2 linked regions of the Homo sapiens genome follow. The protein of the gene in region 1 interacts with the protein of each later gene in a biochemical or structural test. Each region holds a gene or a part of one and is shown in the gene's direction. Other genes may lie near its edges.

Region 1 (2,286 bases):
AACTAAAATACTTCCTGGCTTTAAAAATGTGAGACACGAAGGCTCCTGAAACACTTTTAATGAGACATCGAAGGAACGTGGTAATCAGCCGGGCGTGGTGGCTCATGCCTGTAATCCCAGCACTTTGGGAGGCCGAGGCAGGTGGGGATCACTTGAGGTCAGGAGTTCCAGACCAGCCTGGTGAACATGGAGAAAATCCATCTGTACTAAAAATACAAAAATTAGCCAGGTGTGGCGGCACGCTCCTGTAATTCCAGCTACTCGGGAGGCTGAGGCAGGAGAATTGCTAGGACCCCGGAGGCAGAGGTTGCGGTGAGCCAGGATTGCACCACTGCACCCCAACCTGGGTGACAGAGTGAGACTCTATCTCAAAACAAAAAACAAAAAACATGGTAATCATCCTTTTACAAATTTGTCCAACTCTGAAAAAGGAGTTTATATTATAAATTCCTTCCTATGAATAAGCATAAATAATGCAGCCAAAACATCAGAGTAAACAATTCTTTTCTCCAATAGCTATTTTAATACTGACATTTCCCCATAATGATGACTAGTGACTCATTATCCTGCAATTCAGTTAAGGCAGGAGTTTTGACTCTTGCCAGAGTAGTTTTTTGTTACAAGCAAATCATAGAAATAGTATTAGAAATTATGGCTTCTGAAGCACTTGTGGTTAAAGAGGATGACTTTTATTTCTGGCTGAGGGGAAAGACTGAACACAGAACAGCATTAGGTAAACCAATTGTAGAATGTTTGCATTGATATGAAGTGAGGTAATGGCCTGGTTAACCAATTATTTTTTTAATACTTCCTTTTGTAGGAAGAAGATTTTCAAGAAATGATTAAATCTGCACAGATAATGGAAAGTCAATATGGTCATCTTTTTGACAAAATTATAATAAATGATGACCTCACTGTGGCATTCAATGAGCTCAAAACAACTTTTGACAAATTAGAGACAGAGACCCATTGGGTGCCAGTGAGCTGGTTACATTCATAACTAAGAGAAATTTCCATAATTGTCTTTTTCTATAGAGTGCATGATGAAATCAATTACAGTTTTGGTAGTAGGGTTTTTAAATCTATATCACTGTCATAGATGTACAATCTTGGTTCAAGTTGAATGCTGGTTTTGTTTGTATCTTTTTACAGCCTTATTTCAAACGCCATGTGTTAGTATAAGATCCGAAATCAAAATATGCACAGTACTGTATTCTAAGCAAAACCTCAAACCTTCTCGTTGTCTTCAATACCGCTCTATCTCCAAGATGAGGCTGAAATTTTCAGAGAGACTTAGCTAGAGGCTTAGTATGTATGGGAGTTCAGCGCTTCTGCTGGTCTCAGGTGTGGCTGCTGCTGTCGAGTTTGAATGTTAGCTGTTGAAGGTATCAATTCAGCAGCCATGAGCAGCTCCAGACAGACAGGTGAGCTCTGCTGTTTCTGGGTGGATCATCACAGATTTAGCCGGGCAGGCAGTAAGGTGTCCTCTTACTATTCAAAAAGTGTAGACTTTCTTACATATTCGCAATACGTTCACAGTGTGTGCATTTTAAAATAATTCTTAAAGGAGTAACTGAAATTTTACCTTGAGTGAATGGCCTTCATAATATAGCTTGAGAAGTCCTTTTGAGTACCTGTCAGTGACTCAACAACATTTAATAAGGGAAAGTAGACTTTTAACAGTTATTATATATGTAACGAAAAGCCTTTCCTTTGGGATTAATATAAGTAAGAATGGTAGCCTTGTGGCAAGAAATGATTACAAAGGATATTTTTATTTGTAATTCCTCAGAAGACAATTTATGAAGTCACCCAAAATGTTATTTTAGCTGGTTTTGGATTTTTCCAATAAATTAGAAGAAGGATTTCTATTCTAAAACATGTAAAACCTGTTTTACATATTACTGATACAATTAAAGATTATTTTTCATCTATGTGCAATAGATCACCCCTCTTTAAATTGCTCTAAGATTTATTTTAGAAAACTTTTCATGTGATGTTATTTCTTTGTCATCAAAATGCTTGTTAACACTGTCCAGACACCATCCTAACCTTGCCATTGTTAAAGAAGTTTAGGAAAGACTCTTATATTGTAAATATTTAGATGGGTTCTCTCACTTTTCTTTGATACTACTGATTTTCAGCAAGTGAATTATATAATTCAAAATGCTAGAAATGTCTATCCGTTCTATAAGAGAGCATATCCTGCCGTTCTTGCATGCAGTGAAGCCCTGCCCGTCGAAAATCATTGCATCTGTGACTTTCAAAGTGGAAAAAAAAATGTTA
Region 2 (3,500 bases), on another chromosome or scaffold:
TTTCAGCCCCTGAGCCAAATCCATCCCAACCCTTTTTGTATGCCCTGCAAACTAAGAATGTTTTTCTCATTTTAAAACTATTGTTTAAAAATTAAATATCAAAATAATAATAGTTTTAACACATTAAAATGATATAAAATTCAAATATGAGTGTCCATAAAGTTTTATTGGCACACAGTCATGCTCATTCATTTCCATCATCTTTGGCTGGTTTCATGCTCATGCAGAGTTGAGTAATTATAATAGAGGCTGAACAGCTCACAAAGTCAAGAGTATCTACCATCTGGCCCTTTCCAGAAAAGTTTGCCCATCCCTGGCATACAGCACAGCTGTACTTCCAGCACCTGAAATTTAATAAGTGATTATTACCATCTGTTGGACTGTTGAGTGAATGAATATGAATGCACATAACTGGAGACAATAAAGTTTCAAAGATTTCACTGAAAACTATAAATAAATGAAAATTGGAATCCTTAAAATGCATTTTGTGGTTTAGGGTTGGATAATCAGAGTCAGATTTACTAAAAATATCAATATTCTATTGATCTCATTACATTAATCAATTAGAGTTTGAGTAAGGTGGGCGGGGGGCTGACTGTGAGCCCTATCCTACTAATAGTGCCTACTGCACACATCATCTTTTTGAATGATTTAATACTGCCTAGTGAGATATTTGATAGCACTCACAGGGCATGTATTAAAATCATAAAATGATCAACACAAGTATACTTGATATTTCTTCCAACTTGTAAAATAAAGAAAACTTATATTCATTCACTTTAATGTTTCTCCCAATTTGTGACTTACAAGTTTTATGATTAAAATGGGGAAAAAATCATTGCTACTAATGACATTCTATGCTGTCTTTCAGAACACAGTTTCAGAAAACAGTTTCCAGTGCCTCTGGCCTTCCTACTGAAAGCAGACACAGAGTGCATGAAGACCGTTCAAATATGTCAGGGACCTCCTCCCATGAGTCCTTCTATGACTCCCTCTCAGACATGCAGGAAGAAAGCAAGAATACTGACTTCTTCCCGGGCCTTTCTGCTTTCCTCAGCCAGGAAGAGATAAACAAGAGTCTTGACCTGGCCCGGAGAGCCATAGCCGACTCCGAAACAGAAGATTTTGACTCGGAAAAGGAGATCTCGCAGATTTTCAGTACTTCTCCTGCAAGCCTCTGTGAACATCCTTCCCATAAGGAGACCAAATTGGGTGAACACGCCTCGAGGAGACCTCAGGATAACAGGTCAACACCTGTCCAGCCTCTGGCAGAGAAACAAACTAAGAGTATCTCTTCACCTGTTTCAAAGAGGAAACCTGCCATGTCACCCCTGCTCACCAGGCCCAGCTACATCCGGAGCCTCCGAAAGGCTGAAAAGCGTGGTGCAAAAACTCCCAGCACAAACGTAAAGCCCAAAACGCCACATCAAAGAAAGGGTGGCCCCCAGAGCCAGCTGTGTGACAAGGCAGCTAATTTAATTGAGGAGCTAACATCCATATTTAAAGCCGCAAAGCCAAGAAACAGAAGCCCAAATGGGGAGTCCTCGTCACCAGACAGTGGGTACCTGTCTCCTAAAAATCAGCCGTCAGCCCTGCTGAGTGCCTCAGCCAGCCAGAGCCCTATGGAAGACCAAGGGGAGATGGAAAGAGAGGTCAAGTCCCCTGGGGCCAGGCATTGCTACCAGGACAACCAGGACTTGGCAGTGCCACACAACCGCAAGTCTCACCCACAGCCCCACAGCGCCCTCCACTTCCCAGCTGCACCTCGATTCATCCAAAAGCTGAGGAGCCAAGAAGTAGCAGAAGGGAGCCGAGTTTATCTGGAGTGTAGAGTCACTGGAAACCCCACTCCTCGAGTCAGGTATGAATTTTTGTATTATGCATAGCAAATGATCTTGTTGACTTTGGTGTTACTTTAATATGGGAGGAAGAAAGATTTCCTGTGTCATTAGCCCTCTGGAGACTGAGGTAGAGTACTTGCAAGGAGAGAAGCAGCCCAGAATCGCCACTATGAGTTGTCCTAGTTGTCCCTGGCCTGATATATCTGTGGTCATGCACCCTCTGTGCTAAGGAAGGAAGGCAAAGGACTTGAGAAGGCAAAGAGCAGTGGAAACAGTTTGTTCTCTAAGATGGTGGAACTAGTAACAAATAGGCACACTTAAGATGTGAAACTTATTTACTCGAAGTACTGTGAAAAGTGTGTGTATATTTGAATATGAGTTGCTAAAGACGGTTGAAAGCATGGCTAAAACTAGCTGCTATCTAGAAGTGAAAGGCACGAGTGTGTAGAGGCCAACCTTCAGATTAGCCCCCAATAACGCATTAAAGGGAACAATAAACACCGAGGCCTACTTGAGGGGGGAGAGTAGGAGAAGCCTGAGGATCAAAAAACTACCTATCAGGTACTAATCTCATTACCTGGGTGACAAAATAATCTGTATGCCAAAGCCCTGCAACATGTAATTTACCCATGTAACAAACCTGCACACGTATCCCCGAATGTAAAAGTTGGAAAGAAAAAAAAAAAAGATTCTCATATACAAGAAACAAAAACCAAACAAAAATTATCCCCCAAATGGATAATCTAGTCTCAGGCATGGACTAAATAGGCACATATTCAGTAACATAAACACACACACACCCCTTCAATGTGATGCAAAGAAGGAAGGCAGAACTTTCCTAAGAAAGAAAGATAAATCAAGTCAGGAGCTCCGCAGGTCTGCCCGTTATTCCTACACAGGCTCTGGCCACTAGAGCATGGAGACAGCAAGAAATAACAGTGAAGGGAGTATGCACTTAGAGTTAATAGGCACTCATACCACCATGTTCATTAGAATTTCTATACATTCTTCTGACTTCATTGTAGAGTTTATACCTTCCCCTGAGCAAAAATGTTAAGGGGAAAGAGATCCTGGAGTCCCCCTGCAGGGTTTCCAGTCATGATTCCATTGCCCAAGTTACTCTACCCCTCTGTGACTCAGTTTCTTCATCTGTGAAATGGGAAGTATAATGATACCTACATCATTCTGTTTTATGATTAAATAATACATGGGGAAAATTAAAGCAGTACCTTGCAGCTAGTAACTGCTGCAGTAGTGTTACCTATTATCTTTATTATTTCTCATTTCTTAATTTTATATGGCAAAATGAAAATAACAAGTCAGGATTATACTACACAAATAATGAATATTCATTTATCTGGGAAGTTTTGCTTTTATTCATGCAGAATGCTTTACCTAAATTACATAAATATTTAAAAAGTTAACTCAAGGGCCAGGCACAGTGGCTCATGCCTGTAATTCCAGCACTTTGGGAGATTGAGGTGGGTAGATCACCTAAGGCCAGGAGTTCGAGACAAGCCTGGCCAACATGGTGAAACCCCCTCTCTACTAAAAATACAAAAAATTAGCCAGGCATGGAGGCGAGTGCCTGTAATTCCAGCTACTCAAGAGGCTGAGGCACAAGAATCACTTGAACCTGGGAGGCAGAGGTTGCAGTGA

What was found.
Region 2: the proteins of MPP7 (region 1) and PALLD interact in a test that uses a peptide from one of them, tested with the Homo sapiens proteins (one large-scale study listed by IntAct).

What each region holds. Positions count from the first base shown.
Region 1 is NC_000010.11:28,052,779-28,055,064, reverse strand, and holds part of MPP7 (MAGUK p55 subfamily member 7), read left to right. Parts: intron 1-820; coding exon 821-1,000; 3' UTR 1,001-2,286. UniProt on the Homo sapiens protein: Acts as an important adapter that promotes epithelial cell polarity and tight junction formation via its interaction with DLG1. Involved in the assembly of protein complexes at sites of cell-cell contact.
Region 2 is NC_000004.12:168,510,552-168,514,051, forward strand, and holds part of PALLD (palladin), read left to right. Parts: intron 1-871; coding exon of another isoform or gene 872-953; coding exon 954-1,861; intron 1,862-3,500. UniProt on the Homo sapiens protein: Cytoskeletal protein required for organization of normal actin cytoskeleton. Roles in establishing cell morphology, motility, cell adhesion and cell-extracellular matrix interactions in a variety of cell types.